2 separate regions of the Homo sapiens genome follow, and region 2 is linked to region 1. The links come from fine-mapping of genetic effects on gene expression. A gene starts in region 1. The other region holds a variant in brackets. All regions are shown on one strand. Distances are between the middles of the regions.

Evidence for each region. PIP is the estimated chance that this variant, and not a neighbour inherited with it, causes the effect. A credible set is the group of variants that fine-mapping cannot tell apart.
Region 2: its variant is the best candidate, but not a certain one, in a credible set for the expression of TSPYL2 in whole blood (TOPMed, PIP 0.86).

What each region holds. Positions count from the first base shown.
Region 1 is chrX:53,078,503-53,087,199 of GRCh38, forward strand. It overlaps TSPYL2 (TSPY like 2), which reads left to right and starts at 3,865. Exons shown (of 7, transcript NM_022117.4): 1 at 3,865-4,803; 2 at 6,043-6,120; 3 at 6,253-6,364; 4 at 6,452-6,597; 5 at 6,725-6,819; 6 at 7,129-7,808. The coding sequence starts at 3,997. GPR173 (G protein-coupled receptor 173) reads left to right here. Exons shown (of 2, transcript NM_018969.6): 2 at 1-2,113. RefSeq lists silencers at 3,730-3,839, 4,110-4,159, 4,190-4,239.
Region 2 is chrX:52,101,555-52,110,251 of GRCh38, forward strand. No RefSeq gene overlaps it. Among named protein-coding and RNA genes, the nearest start is that of MAGED4B, 37 kb to the left of the region's middle. The variant T/C (reference allele first, on the strand shown) is at 3,906.

The DNA of each region.
Region 1 (8,697 bases):
GTAAGATGTGAGCTGAACTCCTCGAACTGAAGAGACCCACACTTGGTCACATTCTCTCACGCTGCCTTCAGGATCCCCAGCCCCCAACTCTTCTTCCTGAGGATGGAAATCCACTCCAGCCCCACTAGGACTGATGTGGGTGCCATACAGGCAGGAGCAGCCCACCAGGAAAGTGTAAGGAGGGAGCTGAACTCCCCAGAGTAGCTGGACCACAGAGACTTGGGTCAGAGCTGATTTCAACCCCAGAATTGTCTCTCGGGTTCACCCTACTCTTCTGAAGATGAAAATTTGTTTGGGGCCTTGGTAACCGATAGCGGTACAAACTCCAAGGCACTGTGGACTTGAGTCCATTCCTATCTGACCTCTTTTTGTCCCCCTCAAGCCTCAGGGGCCTCAAGCCCCTCCTTAGTAGCCCTTGGCTGACTGGGCCCTGAGCCCCAAGCATCCTTCTTTCCCAACAACCCTCCTTCCCCATCCTTCCCCCACCCTTACCTACACCCAAAGTGGAGCACACTGCAGTCAGATTCTCCAGGAGGGAGATCCAAGCCTCCTCCCAGGGGTGGAGTCCACTCTGGGCTTACTTTGAGGCCTGTTCTGTGGATTGGTGAGCCAAGCTGGCACTCCTTGCCCTGGTCTTACCCAGGCTCTCTGTCCCCCTCTCACTTCCTGTGGGGCCGGAATCTGTATTTATCCATCCCCCTTTCCCTTCTTTATAGAAGTCCCTGTCCTAAACTCCCTCCCTAGCCCAAGAGAGCCCCAGAACTGGGGAAGCCTGACCCATACAGAATGGGGAGGGCACTCTAGGCAGGAGAGACATTAATGAGCCTGGCTGCAGAGTGGCCCTGGAAAGGCAGGCCAGAGTGGCTGAGAGGCTGGGAGTAGGGGAGCCTGTTCTCTCAGCGATAGTGATGGGGGTGCCTTTCCGAGGGGGTGGGGTGGGAAGACCAAGGGGGTGGGGGGTAGATAGGGTACATTTAGGAGGGTTTTCCTCCATTTCTTTTTTCTAACTGCCTGGATTCACCATTGGATTTTGTAAATGGAAAAACTGAAATGAACAATGCTATACTGGATGTTTTCTCTTTCTGACTGTGTGTGTGTGTGTGCGTGCGTGCGTGCATGTGCCCTGTCTGACCACATGTGGAGAGACATGATTGAGTGATAGTGTGTGTCTGTGTGACTTTGTGTGGGGAGGCACTCCTGAAGAAAACTTGCCCGGTGCACACACGTAAAATGCCTGTATATGGGGACAGATACAGCACGTGCATGCATACACACACACACACACACACCACAGTTGAGAGGAGACAAACTAGAGTATGTGCCCGTGGTAGGAAGTCGAGTGGTCAAGAGATGGATCTTGGAAACTACATAGGTCGGTAGCAAGAGGGTAGACTCCCATCTCACAAGATGGGCCTCCCTTGGCCCAGGCCCTGAGCACGGGAGGGCTGGGGCCGCCAGGGAACTTGAAAACCTCATCTCCTCACAAAGCCTGTAGCCCCATCTCAACCCCGTCTCAGTCTCCTTCCCAAACTCAAACAAGGTGTTCCTAAAATTGGACCACCATGGAGAATGGGGACTGGGAATTGAGGATCAAATGTGAGGGAAACTGATGAGGTTAGGAAATGCCCCCCACAAAGTAATGGCTTCTGGAGGGACTGCTCAGTCTGGGATGGGAGCCCTTCCTAGGGGCCACTGTATGCAGCTGGGACTTTGGTCAGCTTTGACCAAATTTAGAGGGAGGGATGTCATGGGGAAAAAAAACCCAAGCCCAGGAGTCTACCCAGCCAGCCTGCTCCCTAGACAGTTAATTTACTATCTGGTTATTCTCTCAGGTGCACAGAATTGAGTTGACCATACTCCTCAGTTCTTGGCACACTATATCATCATTGGTCCATGTGAGGCCCTTTTATTTTTTTTTCTTCAGTTTTGTCCCCTTCATCACCCATTCCTGATCCCATCCTCCCCGCCCCCTACACAGGCACCCACTCTCGTGTATTTAACGTACGTCCTTCCAATCCACCGTTCATGTGTTTATTTACATATATGTGTATCTGTGAAAAATGTATGGTATTGCTGTGTGTTTTAATTTACATAAACAGTATTGTACTATAAATCTTGTTGTTTCTTTTTTCACTCAACATTCTGTCTTTGAGAGATCCAGCCATGTTGCCGTATATAGATCTAATTCATTCTAGTGGTCCATCTAAAACATATATCACATTTTTCTTATCCACTCCCCTGATGATGGATCCCTAGGTCTCCTCTCTGCTCCGCGACAAGGCTGCAATGGGCAGTTACCTACACCTCTCTTGAGGGATGCCTAATTTAGGGGAGAGAAAACTGAAGCTCAGAGAGGGGCAGTGATTTGGTTAAGGTTACAAAATGAGGGGCACACCCATGATGTGAATCCCAGCACCAAAGCCAGCCCTCCACCACCATGCCTCACAAAAGACCATCCATCTCTGGTTTAAAAAGAAAAATCTTAAAATACAGCATACACTGGGGAAAGGGAGAGGAAAGGATGGAAAGGGGGAGAAATGAAGAGACAGAAAGTGCTAGAAAATTCTAGCAGATGAGCTGAATCACAATCATTTTTATGACGCAGAGGAAGTTACTTTTTTGTGTGTGTGATTATTATTTGTAGAGCCATTTTGCGGAGATGGAAAACGCCACGTCAAAACCTGGCCCCCAAACCAAACACCCTGGGTGCCTAAATTGCAGGCGCAGGCGGTAGGGCAGCCCGAGCCCCCGAGGAGCTACAGCAGAGTTCACCCAGGGGGCAAACGTGGGGGGTGGGGGAAGGGGCAGAAGTGGAAGGTAGGAAAAGAGGCAGAAGCGGGGGGGCGGGGGGCAGGGGTTGTGTGAGGGAAGGGGCAGAAGTTGGGGGATAGGGGAAGGGCAGAAGCGGAGGGCGGGAGGGTGAGGGAAGGGGCAGAAGTGGGGTTGGGGGGTGAAGGAAGGGGCAGAAGTTGGGGGATAGGGGAAGGGGCAGAAGTGGGGGTGAGGGAAGAGACAGTTGGGGGATGGGGGTCAGAAGCAGGGAATGCGGGAAGGGGCAGAAGGGGGGGTGAGGGAAGGGGCAGAAGCGGGGGAGGAAGGGGCAGAAGCGGGGGGTGAAGGGGCAGAAGCGGGGGTGGGGTGGGGGAAGGGGCCGAAGCGGGGGATGGGGGAAGGGGCAGAAACGGGGGGTGGGGGAAGGGACAGAAACGGGGAGTGGAGGAAGGGGCAGAAGCGGGGATGGAAAAAGGGGCAGCAGTGGGGGATGGGAGAAGGGGCAGAAGCGGGGGTGGGAGAAGGGGCAGGAGCTGGGATGGGGGAAGGGGCAGGACCCGGGATGGGGGAAGGGGCAGAAGCGGGGGTGGGGGAAGGAGCTGAAGGAAATGGGGGAAGGGGCAGATTTTAAAAGTGCGTAGTTGCTGAGGGGAGGGGGGCGGGGGGAACGATAACGAGGCTCTTCCAATTTCATGTGAGCACATCCTGCTCAGCGCCTGCGTTTGTTTTTCGTCTCGTTTTTTGGTCTTCAGAACCACTGGTACTTTTCCCATTGGATAAAACGCTGAGAGGGTGAGGGAGAGGGGCTTCTTCCCCAGCTTTCCTCGCAGCCAATCGCCCTGCAGTTTCCCTCCCGTCGCTGAGGGAGTCAGCCCGTTGATTGGCGGGCCCGAGGGGAGCCAATCGGAAACTGATGATGTGTGGTGTTGGCAAGCGGATTGCGTGAGAGCGGGCAGGGGTCGCGGGAGCGCGATCGCCGCCGCGGCGGCCGGCAGCCAATGGCCAGGCCGAGCGGACCCCTGCGTCAGGAGTGGGCGGGGCTTCGGCGATTGGCGCGGAGGGAGTAGAGCGGGCGCTGTGGGAGGGAACGCCAGAGCGAGGTGGTGAGGAGAGCTGGTTGCGTGAGTCTCCTCAGCTCTGCTTACCGGTGCGACTAGCGGCAGCGACGCGGCTAAAAGCGAAGGGGCGAGTGCGAGTCCCCTGAGCTGTACGAACGCGGTCGCCATGGACCGCCCAGATGAGGGGCCTCCGGCCAAGACCCGCCGCCTGAGCAGCTCCGAGTCTCCACAGCGCGACCCGCCCCCGCCGCCGCCGCCGCCGCCGCTCCTCCGACTGCCGCTGCCTCCACCCCAGCAGCGCCCGAGGCTCCAGGAGGAAACGGAGGCGGCACAGGTGCTGGCCGATATGAGGGGGGTGGGACTGGGCCCCGCGCTGCCCCCGCCGCCTCCCTATGTCATTCTCGAGGAGGGGGGGATCCGCGCATACTTCACGCTCGGTGCTGAGTGTCCCGGCTGGGATTCTACCATCGAGTCGGGGTATGGGGAGGCGCCCCCGCCCACGGAGAGCCTGGAAGCACTCCCCACTCCTGAGGCCTCGGGGGGGAGCCTGGAAATCGATTTTCAGGTTGTACAGTCGAGCAGTTTTGGTGGAGAGGGGGCCCTAGAAACCTGTAGCGCAGTGGGGTGGGCGCCCCAGAGGTTAGTTGACCCGAAGAGCAAGGAAGAGGCGATCATCATAGTGGAGGATGAGGATGAGGATGAGCGGGAGAGTATGAGGAGCAGCAGGAGGCGGCGGCGGCGGCGGAGGAGGAAGCAGAGGAAGGTGAAGAGGGAAAGCAGAGAGAGAAATGCCGAGAGGATGGAGAGCATCCTGCAGGCACTGGAGGATATTCAGCTGGATCTGGAGGCAGTGAACATCAAGGCAGGCAAAGCCTTCCTGCGTCTCAAGCGCAAGTTCATCCAGATGCGAAGACCCTTCCTGGAGCGCAGAGACCTCATCATCCAGCATATCCCAGGCTTCTGGGTCAAAGCAGTATCCTTCTAATCGATACTCCGTAGGTCAGAAGCCCGTGACAGGAAAGGGGAAGGTGGGGGAGGGACAGAAAAGGTAAAGCGGGTGGAGGAGAGCCAGAGGTGGGCATGATCCCCCTATCGGAAGACGGACTAGACTGGGTGGAAGAGGGATGGAAGGAGGAGGGCAAAACAGCAGAGAAGCTGGACTGGAGATGATGAAGGGTGGTGGAGGGGGGGCGGACATAAAAACTGGACCACAGATGGGAAAGGGGGAAGAGGAGGAACATAGCATTAAAAAAAGGATCACAGATGATAAAAAGGGGGAGGGTAGTAAAGGGGCACACAGCAAAAAAATTGGACCAGAGATGGTGAAAGGAGGAGGGGAGGGGCACGTAGAAGATGAACTGACTCAGAGACCTTGAAGAGGGAGGGGAATGGCACACAGCAGAGAAACTGCCCAGAAAGGGTGCTTGAGCCATACAAGGCTCTGTAAACCTAGATTTTTGCTTAAGATACTAGGAGACCCCAATCCTGGCTGGAGTGCCTTGCATTGGAGGGAGGGGGGCTGGAGCCCCTGAAAGATCAAGAGAGGGAGTGTCTAGGTATAGAGAAAAAGGAGTTAAATGAAGGAAAGGGGAGAGTAGACACATACACATACATGTAACATGTTAGGAACATGAGTCGAACATCCTAATAGAATTATGTGGATACAGACCCTTAGCCCTCATATGAAACAGCACATGGTAAGAGGCCCTTAGCACCCAGGCATACAATATCATTTAGACATAGGACCTCAGCTCCTAGACACAGTATTATGTGACCACAGGTCCTCAGCATGTAGACACATGGCATAACTTGACCACAAGCCATCAGAGCCATTCACACATCATGTGGACATGGACCTTCAACACCCATACATACAATAACGTGACCACAGGCCCTCAGCAATCAGTTACAGCATCACTTGGACATGGCCCTTAAGCCCCCAGACGTGCATTTTGTGAACACAAGCTTTCAGCACCCAGTGACATATACCACATGCACATGGATTGTCGACACCCTGTAGGGCCACCTAACATAGAGGTTTATCATGGGAATAAGTATGGGTTATGTCCCATGACTCACTTGCTTTATACACACCACATAAGCACAGAAGGAATCCTCATGCTCCAGCCTCTCTTACTGTGCCCTTCCTGGCCTTCCCTCCCTCCCTTTCACGGAATAGTCAATCCTTGACCTAAACTGCTCCACTCATCAGTTCCTCAACCACCCCAGAATTTCAATTTTGATCAACCGACGTGATGAAGACATTTTCCGCTACTTGACCAATCTGCAGGTCAGGCCAGAGAGACATTTTTTAGTAGGATCGGGCACGAATCTGGTTCTTGGAGGTGACGGGAGGTGGGTGGGAAGGGCCGTGGTGTGTTGGGGGGGGGACAGATTCCACCATCACCCCCACCTGGAGCAGGTACAGGATCTCAGACATATCTCCATGGGCTACAAAATGAAGCTGTACTTCCAGACTAACCCCTACTTCACAAACATGGTGATTGTCAAGGAGTTCCAGCGCAACCGCTCAGGTAAGTGGCAGTACCAGAGTAAATCCATGTTCCCCCCCTCAATCTGTCCTTGTTTTGTCCCATCTCCATAGCCTTCTCTCTCCCTAGGCCGGCTGGTGTCTCACTCAACCCCAATCCGCTGGCACCGGGGCCAGGAACCCCAGGCCCGTCGTCACGGGAACCAGGATGCGAGCCACAGCTTTTTCAGCTGGTTCTCAAACCATAGCCTCCCAGAGGCTGACAGGATTGCTGAGGTGGGGCCCTTCCTGGCATCACCAGAGAAGGCCTTGCTAGGCTTGTTCCTGGGTGCGTGGGGAATTAAGAGGAGGATCTGGAGCTTGTACTAATGGCTGTCTTATTCCTTCTCCCCTTTTTCAACAGATTATCAAGAATGATCTGTGGGTTAACCCTCTACGCTACTACCTGAGAGAAAGGGGCTCCAGGATAAAGAGAAAGAAGCAAGAAATGAAGAAACGGTAATGGGAGTTTGGTCGCTGAGAGGTGGTTTGTTGGGGATGGGGAAAAGACTAGTGTAACACAGGATTTATGGAGCCAAAAAGGGACCTTTGAGATAATCCCAGTGGAATATGTTTTACAAGTGGGAAATCATGCCCAGAAATGGCTTGAGGTTACACAGTCAGGGGCAGAAGTGGGACTTTACCCACCCTAGCCCCATTCCTGGGATCCCTTATAGCCTACTGCTTCCCCAGTTACTTCCCACCTTTGAGTGCTATGAGTACACCACCTCCCACCAACCCTATACTCAGCCACAGCCTTCCTTACAGTAAAACCAGGGGCAGATGTGAGGTGGTGATCATGGAAGACGCCCCTGACTATTATGCAGTGGAAGACATTTTCAGCGAGATCTCAGACATTGATGAGACAATTCATGACATCAAGATCTCTGACTTCATGGAGACCACCGACTACTTCGAGACCACTGACAATGAGATAACTGACATCAATGAGAACATCTGCGACAGCGAGAATCCTGACCACAATGAGGTCCCCAACAACGAGACCACTGATAACAACGAGAGTGCTGATGACCACGAAACCACTGACAACAATGAGAGTGCAGATGACAACAACGAGAATCCTGAAGACAATAACAAGAACACTGATGACAACGAAGAGAACCCTAACAACAACGAGAACACTTACGGCAACAACTTCTTCAAAGGTGGCTTCTGGGGCAGCCATGGCAACAACCAGGACAGCAGCGACAGTGACAATGAAGCAGATGAGGCCAGTGATGATGAAGATAATGATGGCAACGAAGGTGACAATGAGGGCAGTGATGATGATGGCAATGAAGGTGACAATGAAGGCAGCGATGATGACGACAGAGACATTGAGTACTATGAGAAAGTTATTGAAGACTTTGACAAGGATCAGGCTGACTACGAGGACGTGATAGAGATCATCTCAGACGAATCAGTGGAAGAAGAGGGCATTGAGGAAGGTGAGCTAATCCCCCCCCACCCTTGTCTTCCCTCTTTTCTTTTCTCAGAGCAAGCCTGGCCAAGGACAGGGTATCAAGGCATGAACACAATCTGCTTTTATGGAGGAAAGAAAAAGCATTCTGAGCAACTTTTTAAACAAAGGAAGTCCAGTGAACATTTAACTTAAAAATGTAACAAAACCCCAAAAAATCATTTTAGTTCTAGGTGATGGATAGATGGTTGTAACAGCAGAAGATGAAGAGTACACAGAGATAGGAGACAGTGGGTGGAAAACTGAAAAGGACACTTCACATCGAGGTGGGGGAGTGGCAAAACACAGTGCATTTCAGCACAGTCTGTACCCGGCCTTGGCCTTTGGCGCATTTCCAGGCTTGTGTTGGGAGCAGAGCATGAAGTGAACAGTGTGCTCTCTGAGTCCAGAAAAGGGTGCAGCCAGTTCTACCTCAAGAATCGGGGTGGGGGGGGTGGCGGGGGAAGAGCTAGAGGAAAAAGGTGACATTTGAACTGGAGGATGCATTCACACTGAGGAGCTTTATGGAGCATTCTCCGTGGAGTGGATCATCTGAACAAGGACCTGGAAGGGTGAAAATGCATCGTAGGTTGGGCAGGGTTTCCAAAATTATGTCCTGAGGATCACTCACCAGATCTGAAAGCTGCTTCCCACAAAAGGTTTCAGTGGTCGTATATGTTGGACAAGTACTGCATATAGTAATACCCTCTTGTAGAGTCACATTAGCACCTTAAAGGCTCTGAGAATAACACGAGAATTATAAAGGTGCTGAGAAGTACTCAGATGGGAGGTGGAAGGGGCAGGAAAATCAACTACTCTTCGGGTTTTTTTGGCTATGGGGTCCCTGGCAAACTTCCATTGAGGGCAAGGCCAGGGCA
Region 2 (8,697 bases), 980 kb before region 1:
TGTGAAGAAGCTCTTTAGTTGAATTAGATCCCATTTGTCAATTTTGGCTTTTGTTGCCATTGCTTTTGGTGTTTTAGACATGAAGTCCTTGCCCATGCCTATGTCTTGAATGGTATTGCCTAGGTTTTCTTCTAGGGTTTTTATGGTTTTAGGTCTAACATATAAGTCTTTCATCCATCTTGAATTAATTTTTGTGTAAGGTGTAAGGAAGGGATCCAGTTTCAGCTTTCTACATATGGCTAGCCAGTTTTCCCAGCACCATTTAATAAATACGGAATCCTTTCCCCATTGCTTTTTTTTTTTCAGATTTGTCAAAGATCAGATGGTTGTAGATATGCAGCATTATTTCTGAGGACTCTATTCTGTTCCATTGATCTATAGATCTGTTTTGGTACCAGTACCATGCTGTTTTGGTTACTATAGCCTTGTAGTATAGTTTGAAGTCAGGTAGTGTGATGCCTCTGGCTGTGTTCTTTTGGCTTAGGATTGACTTGGCGATGGGGGCTTTTTTTGGTTCCATATGAACTTTAAAGTAGTTTTTTCCAATTCTGTGAAGAAAGTCCTTGGTAGCTTGATGGGGATGGCATTGAATCTATAAATTACCTTGGGCAGTATGGCCATTTTCACAGTATTGATTCTTCCTACCCATGAGCATGGAATGTTTTTCCATTTGTTTGTATCCTCTTTTATTTCCTTGAGCAGTGGTTTGTAGTTCTCTTTGAAGAGGTCCTTCACATCCCTTGTAAGTTGGACTCCTAGGTATTTTATTCTCTTTGAAGCAATTGTGAATGGGAGTTCACTCATGATTTGGCTCTCTGTTTGTCTGTTATTGGTGTATAAGAATGCTTGTGATTTTTGCACATTGATTTTGTATCCTGAGACCTTGCTGAATTTGCTTATCAGCTTAAGGAGATTTTTGGCTGAGACAATGGGATTTTCTAGATATACAATCATGTCATCTGCAAACAGGGACAATTTGACTTCCTCTTTTTCTATTTGAATACCTTTTATTTCCTTCTCCTGCTTAATTGCCCTGGCCAGCACTTCCAACACTATGCTGAATAGATGTGGTGAGAGAGGGCATTCCTGTCTTGGGCCAGTTTTCAAAGGGAATGCTTCCAGTCTTTGCCCATTCAGTATGATATTGGCTGTGAGTTTGTCATTGACAGCTCTTATTATTTTGAAATACGTCCCATCAATACCTAATTTATTGAGAGTTTTTAGCATGAAGGGCTGTTGAATTTTGTGAAAGGCCTTTTCTGCATCTATTGAGATAATCATGTGGTTTTTGTTGTTGGTTCTGTTTATATGCTGGATTACATTTATTGATTTGCGTAAGTTGAAACAGCCTTGCCTCCCAGGGATGAAGCCCACTTGATCATGGTGGATAAGCTTTTTGATGTGCTGCTGTATTAAGTTTGCCAGTATTTTGTTGAGGATTTTTCCATCAATGTTCATCAAGGATGTGGGTCTAAAATTATCTTTTTTGGTTGTGTCTCTGCCAGGCTTTGGTATCAGGATGATGCTGGCCTCATAAAATGAGTTAGGGAGGATTCCCTCTTTTTCTATTGATAGGAATAGTTTCAGAAGGAATGGTACCAGCTCCTCCTTGTACCTCTGGTAGAATTCGGCTGTGAATCCATCTGGTCCTGGACTTTTTTTGGTTGGTAAGCTATTGATTATTGCCACAATTTCAGAGCCTGTTATTGGTCTATTTGGAGATTCAATTTCTTCCTTGTTTAGTCTTCAGAGGGCGTATGTGTCCAGGAATTTATCCATTTCTTCTAGATTTTCTAGTTTATTTGGGTAGAGATGTTTGTAGTATTCTCTGATGGTAGTTTGTATTTCTGCGGGATCGGTGGTGATATCCCCTTTATCATTTTTTATTGCGTGTATTTGATTCTTCTCTCTTTTCTTCTTTATTAGTCTTGCTTGCGGTCTATCAATTTTGTTGATCCTTTCAGAAAACCAGCTCCTGGACTCATTAATTTTTTGAAGGGTTTTTTGTGTCTTTATGTCCTTCAGTTCTGCTCTGATCGTAGTTATTTCTTGCCTTCTACTAGCTTTTGAATGTGTTTGCTCTTGCTTTTCTAGTTCTTCTAATTGTGATGTTAGGGTGTCAATTTTGGATCTTTCCTGCTTTCTCTTGTGGGCATTTAGTGCTATAAATTTCCCTCTACAAACTGCTTTGAAAGTGTCCCAGAGATTCTGGTATATTATGTCTTTGTTCTCATTGGTTTCAAAGAACATCTTTATTTGTGCCTTCATTTCGTTATGCATCCAGTAGTCATTCAGGAGCAGGTTCTTCTGTTTCCATGTAGTTGAGTGGTTTTGAGTGAGTTTCTTAATCCTGAGTTCTAGTTTGACTTCACTGTGGTCTGAGAGACAGTTTGTTATAATTTCTATTCTTTTACATTTGCTGAGGAGTGCTTTACTTCCAACTATGTGGTCAATTTTGTAATAGGTGTGATGTAGTGCTGAAAAAAATGTATATACTGTTGATTTGGGGTGGAGAGTTCTGTAGATGTCTATTAGGTACACTTGGTGCAGAGCTGAGTTCAATTCCTGGATATCCTTGTTAACTTTCTGTCTCGTTGATCTGTCTAATGTTGACAGTGGGGTGTTAAAGTCTCCCATTATTAATGTGTGGGAGTCTAAGTCTCTTTGTAGGTCTCTAAGAACTTGCTTTATGAATCTGGGTGCTCTTGTATTGGGTGCATATATATTTAGGATAGTTAGCTCTTCTTGTTGAATTGATCCGTTTACCATTATGTAATGGCCTTCTTTGTCTCTTTTGATCTTTGTTGGTTTAAAGTCTGTTTTATCAGAGACTAGGATTGCAACCCCTGCCTTTTTTTGTTTTCCATTTGCTTGGTAGATCTTCCTCCATCCCTTTATTTTGAGCCTATGTGTGTCTCTGCACGTGAGATGGGTTTCCTGAATACAGCACACTGATGGGTCCTGACTCTTTATCCAATTTGCCAGTCTGTGTCTTTTAATTGGAGCGTTTAGTCCATTGACTTTTAAAGTTAATATTGTCATGTGTGCATTTGGTCCTGTCATTATGATGTTAGCTGGTTATTTTGCTCGTTAGTTGATGCAGTTTCTTCCTAGCCTTGATAGTCTTTACAATTTGGCATGTTTTTGCAGTGGCTGGTACCGGTTGTTCCTTTCCATGTTTAGTGCTTCCTTCAGGAGCTCTTGTAGGGCAGGCCTGGTGGTGATAAAATCTCTCAGCATTTGCTTGTCTGTAAAGGATTTTATTTCTCCTTCACTTATGAAGCTTAGTTTGGCTGAATATGAAATTCTGGGTTGAAAATTCTTTTCTTTAAGAATCTTGAATATTGGCCCCACTCTCTTCTGGCTTGTAGAGTTTCTGCTGAGAGATCCGCTGTTAGTCTGATGGGCTTCCCTTTGTGGGTAACCCGACCTTTCTCTCTGGCTGCCCTTAACATTTTTTTCCTTCATTTCAACTTTGGTGAATCTGACAATTATGTGTCTTTGAGTTGCTCTTCTCGAGGAGTATCTTTGTGGCGTTCTCTGTATTTCCTGAATCTGAATGTTGGCCTGCCTTTCTAGATTGGGGAAGTTCTCCTGGATAATATCCTGCAGAGTGTTTTCCAACTTGGTTCCATTCTCCCTGTCACTTTCAGGTACACCAATCAGACGTAGATTTGGTCTTTTCACATAATCCCATATTTCTTGGAGGCTTTGTTCATTTCTTTTTATTCTGTTTTCTCTGAACTTCCCTTCACACTTCATTTCATTCATTTCGTCTTCCATCACTGATACCCTTTCTTCCAGGTGATCGCATCGGCTCCTGAGGCTTGTGAGTTCTTCACATAATTCTGGAGCCTTGGCTTTCAGCTCCATCAGCTCCTTTAAGGACTTCTCTGCATAGGTTA[T/C]TCTAAGTATCCATTCGTCTAATTTTTTTTTCAAAGTTTTTAACTTCTATGCCATTGGTTTGAATTTCCTCCTTTAGCTCGGAGTAGCTTGATTATCTGAAGTCTTCTTCTCTCAACTCGTCAAAGTCATTCCCCATCCAGCTTTTTTCCATTGCTGGTGAGGAGCTGAGTTCCTTTGGAGGAGGAGAGGTGCTCTGCTTTTTAGAGTTTCCAGTTTTTCTGCTCTGTTTTTTCCCCATTTTTGTGGTTTTATCTACTTTTGGTCTTTGGTGATGGTGACATACAGGTGGGTTTTTGGTGCGGATGTCCTTTGTGTTTGTTAGTTTTCCTTCTAACAGACAGAACCCTCAGCTGCAGGTCTGTTGGAGTTTGCTGGAGGTCCACTCCAGACCCTGTTTGCCTGGGTATCAGCAGTGGTGGCTGCAGAACAGCGGTGGCTGTACAACAGTGGATATTGGTGAACTGCAAATGCTGCTGCCTGATTGTTCCTCTGGAAGTTTTTTCTCAGAGGAGTACCCAGCCGTGTGAGGTGTCAGTTTGCCCCTACTGGTGGGTGCCTCCCAGTTAGGCTGCTTGGGGGTCAGGGGTCAGGGACCCACTTGAGGAGGCAGTCTGCCTGTTCTCAGATCTCCAGCTGCATGCTGGGCAAACCATTCCTCTCTTCAAAGCTGTCAGACAGGGACATTTAAGTTTGCAGAGGTTACTGCTGTCTTTTTGTTTATCTATGCCCTGCCCCCAGAGGTGGAGCCTACAGAGGCAGGAAGGCCTCCTGGAGCTGTGGTGGGCTCCACCCAGTTTGAGCTTCCAGGCTGCTTTGTTTACCTAATCAAGCCTGGGCAATGGCAGGCGCCCATCCTCCAGCCTCACTGCCACCTTGGAGTTTGATCTCAGAACACTGTGCTAGCAATCAGCGAGACTCCGTGGGCATAGGACCCTCCGAGCCATGTGCGGGATATAATCTCCTGGTGTGCCCTTTTATAAGCCTGTTGGAAAAGCGCAGTATTAGGGTGGAAGTGACCCGATTTTCCAGGTGCTGTCTGTCACCCCTTTCTTTGAGTAGGAAAGGGACCTCCCTGACCCCTTGTGCTTCACGAGTGAGGCAATGCCTCGCCCTGCTTCGGCTCACGCATGGTGTGCTGCACCCACTGTCCTGCTCCCACTGTCTGGCACTCCCTAGTGAGATGAACCCGGTACCTCAGATGGAAATGCAGAAATCACCCGTCTTATGTGTCGCTCATGCTGGGAGCTGTAGACCGGAGCTTTTCCTATTCGGCCATCTTGGCTCCACCCAACCAATACAATCTTCTCTTTTAGTTATTTTTAACTGCACATTACTTTTATTTATTCTCACTCTGTCACCCAGACTGAGTGCAGTGGCATGATCATGGCTTACTGCAGCCTTGACCTCCCAGGCTTAAGTGATCCTCCCACCTCAGCCTCCCATGTATCTGAGACTACGGGTGCATGCCACTACATGCAGTTAATTTTTATTTTATTTTATTTTATTTTTTGTAGAGACAAGTTCTCTCTATGTTGCCCAGGCTGGTCTTGAACTTCCAGACTCAAGCTGTCCTCCTGCCTTGGCCTTCCAATGTGCTGGGATTACAGACAAGAGCCGTGACACCTGGCATGTATAATAAACTTTCGTTGACTGTAGTTATCCTGTTGTGATATCAAATACCAGATCTTATCTACTCTATTTTTTGGTACCCATTAACCATTCACACTCCCCCTACCCCCACTACCCTTCCCAGACTGTGGTAAACATTGTTCTACTCTCTATCTCCATGAGTTCAAGTGTTTTAATTTTTAGCTCCCATAAATATGTGAAGCTGCCTTTCTGTTTCAGGCTTATTTCACATAATATAATGTCCTTCAGTTTCATCCATGTTGTTGCAAATGACAGGATCTCATTCTTTTTTATGACTGAATAGTACTCCACTGTGTATATGTACTACATTTTCTTTACCCATCCATCTATTGATGGATACATAGGTTGCATCCAAATCTTGGCTATTGTAAGTAGGGCTGCAATAAACATGGGGATGCAGATATGTCTTCAATATGCTGATGTCCTTTCTTTGGGGCATATACCCAGCAGTGGGATTGCTGGGTTGTATGGTAGCTCTATTTTTAGTTGTCTGAGGAACCTCCAAACTGTTCTCCATAGTGGTTGTACTAATGTACCTTACCACCAACAGTGTATTAAGGTTCTGGTGCTTTATTCAGTTCATTTGGTGAATTAATGTTTTCTTGGATGTTCTTGATGCTTGTGGATGTTCCTCAGTGTCTGAGCATTGAAGAGTTAGGTATTTATTGTAGTCTTCACAGTCTGGGCTTGGTACCCATCCTTCCTGGGTAGGCTTTCCAGGTATTCAAAGGGATTTAGGTGTTGTTCTAAACCTTTGGTCACTGCAGCTTTGTCTCTATTAGGGGACACCCTAAGTCTAGTAATGTTATGGCTCTTGTAGACTCTGAGGTACTGCCTTGGTGGTCTTGGGTAAGATCATGGAGGAATTACCTGGATTACCTCACAGAGGTTCTTGTTTTCTTTCCTTACTTTACCCCAAACCAATTGAGTCTCTGTGCTGAGCTGCCTGGAGCTGGGTGTGGGATGACACAAGTACCTCTATGGTACTCACCACTGGGACTGTGCTGGGTCAGACCCAAAGTCAGCATGCCACTTGGTCTTGCCCAATACCACAGTGACCACTGCCTGGCTACTGCCTATGTTCACTTAAAGCCAAAATGCTCTACAGTCAATAGGTGGTGAAGCCAGTCAGTCTTGTGTTCTTCCCTTAAGGGCAGCAAGTTCTCCCTTGCCCTGGGTGGGTCAAAAGTTGCTCTTCTGGACCTAGGACCTGGAGTTCAGAACCTTAGGAATCTACCTGGTGCTCTGTTAAACTGTGGCTGAGCCGGCAAGAAGCTGCAAGACAAAGTCCTTCTCACACTTGCCTCCCCTATCCTCAAGTAGAGGAGTTTCTCCCCATAGCCACCACCACCCCAGGCCCACAGCAAGCACTGGCTGGTTACCACTGATGATTATGCAGAGCCCAAGAGCTTTTTTGTTAGCAGGTGATAGATCCTGCCAGGAGTTGGTCCTTCCCTTCAAGGTAGCATGTTCCCTTCTAGTCCACAGTGTGTTAAGAAATGTCATCTGTGAGCTGGGGCTTGTAATGGGAGCCTTGGGACTATTCCTGTTGCCTTATCCTACTGTGGCTGGGCTGGTACCCAATTGCAAGACACAGTCCTCTTCACTCCCCACTCTCCTCTCGTCTCTTCAAGGTGAAGGTAGGAGTCTCTCCTGGAGCTGCAAGTTGTGATGCCTGGGTTTGAGGGAAGGGTGACATGAGCACTCCCTAGGCTGCCCTAGCTGGTGCATCACTACATTGTCTACACTCCAAGTCTACCTGGCTTTGAGCCCAGCATAGTACCAGGACTCACGTAGGAATTGGAGTCCTTGTGGCTGAGACTGTCTTTCAAGTTTATTTAGGGCCCCATAGCACTTTAGCCTGCAGTGGCAGGGCTTGCTGGAACTCAGGTGTCGACTGCTGGGATGGACAATTCATCTCTGACTATGGCTGGTCTAAATGCTCCCTCCGTGGGTGCTGGTTGAGTTCTGCCCTGTGTTGCTTTTGACTATGGTAGGGCAGCACTGAGTTTGAATGTGTAGTCCCAAAATTTCAGCACTTTCCTTTCCCTAAGTACAGAGATTCTCTCTGTTCCATGTAGCCACTGCTGGGGGATACGAGTGGGGTGGTGTAGGCTATTTAAGAAAGACTGTGTTTCCTACCCTCTTCATTGCCTTTTTCCTTAATATGGTGTTAAAGCAAGTACTGTGACCACTCCCTTGATATTTGGTTCTTTTGAAGGTGCTTTATTTATGTTCAATATGGTGTTCCTGTGTGGTAGGGGGAAACTTGCTGTAGCCTTCTATTTAGTCATCTTGCCCTGCCTCCCTGTCCTAGTATTCGTTGTTTTGAGAAGCCTACATTGATACTTGTTATCACTTGGCATTTTGATCATATTCATACTAACAGATGTGAAGTGATATCTCACTGTGGTTTTAATTTGCATTCCCCTGATGATTAATTATGTTAAGCACCTTTTCATCTACCTGGGAGACCCTAAGTAGCCAAAGACATAATAAGAAAAGACAACAGATCTGGAGGCATCACACTGCCTAATTTCCAAGTATATTATAAAGATATAGTAATCAATAGAGAATTGTACTGGCATAAAAACAGATACATCAACCAACTGAACAAAATAGATAGTTCACAAATATATCCACACGTATATGGTCAACTAATCTTCAAAAAAAGCAATAAGAATACACAATACAGAAAGGATATTCCCTCCAAATCTCATGTTGAAATGTGATTTTGAATGTTGGAGGTTGGGCCTAGTGGGAGGTATTGGACCATGGGGGCAGATTTCTCATGAATGGCTTAGTGCCATCCCCTTGGTGATGAGTAGATTCTAGCTCTATTTATGGAAGATCTGTTTTTTTAAAAACAGTATGGAATCACCCCCTTGTCTCTCTTGGTCCTTCTCTTGCCATGTGATATGCTTGCCCCTGCTTTGCCTTCTGCTGTGAGTAAAAGTTCTCTGAGGCCTCACCAGAAGGGAAGGAGATGCTGGTGTCACACTTTTGTACAGTCTGCAGAACTGTGAGCCAATTAAAAAACCTCTTTTCTTTATAAATTACCCAGCCTCAGGTATTTCTTTATAACAATGCAAAAATGGGCTAACACAGGGTGTCTCTATTTTATTCCATTGGTCTATATTT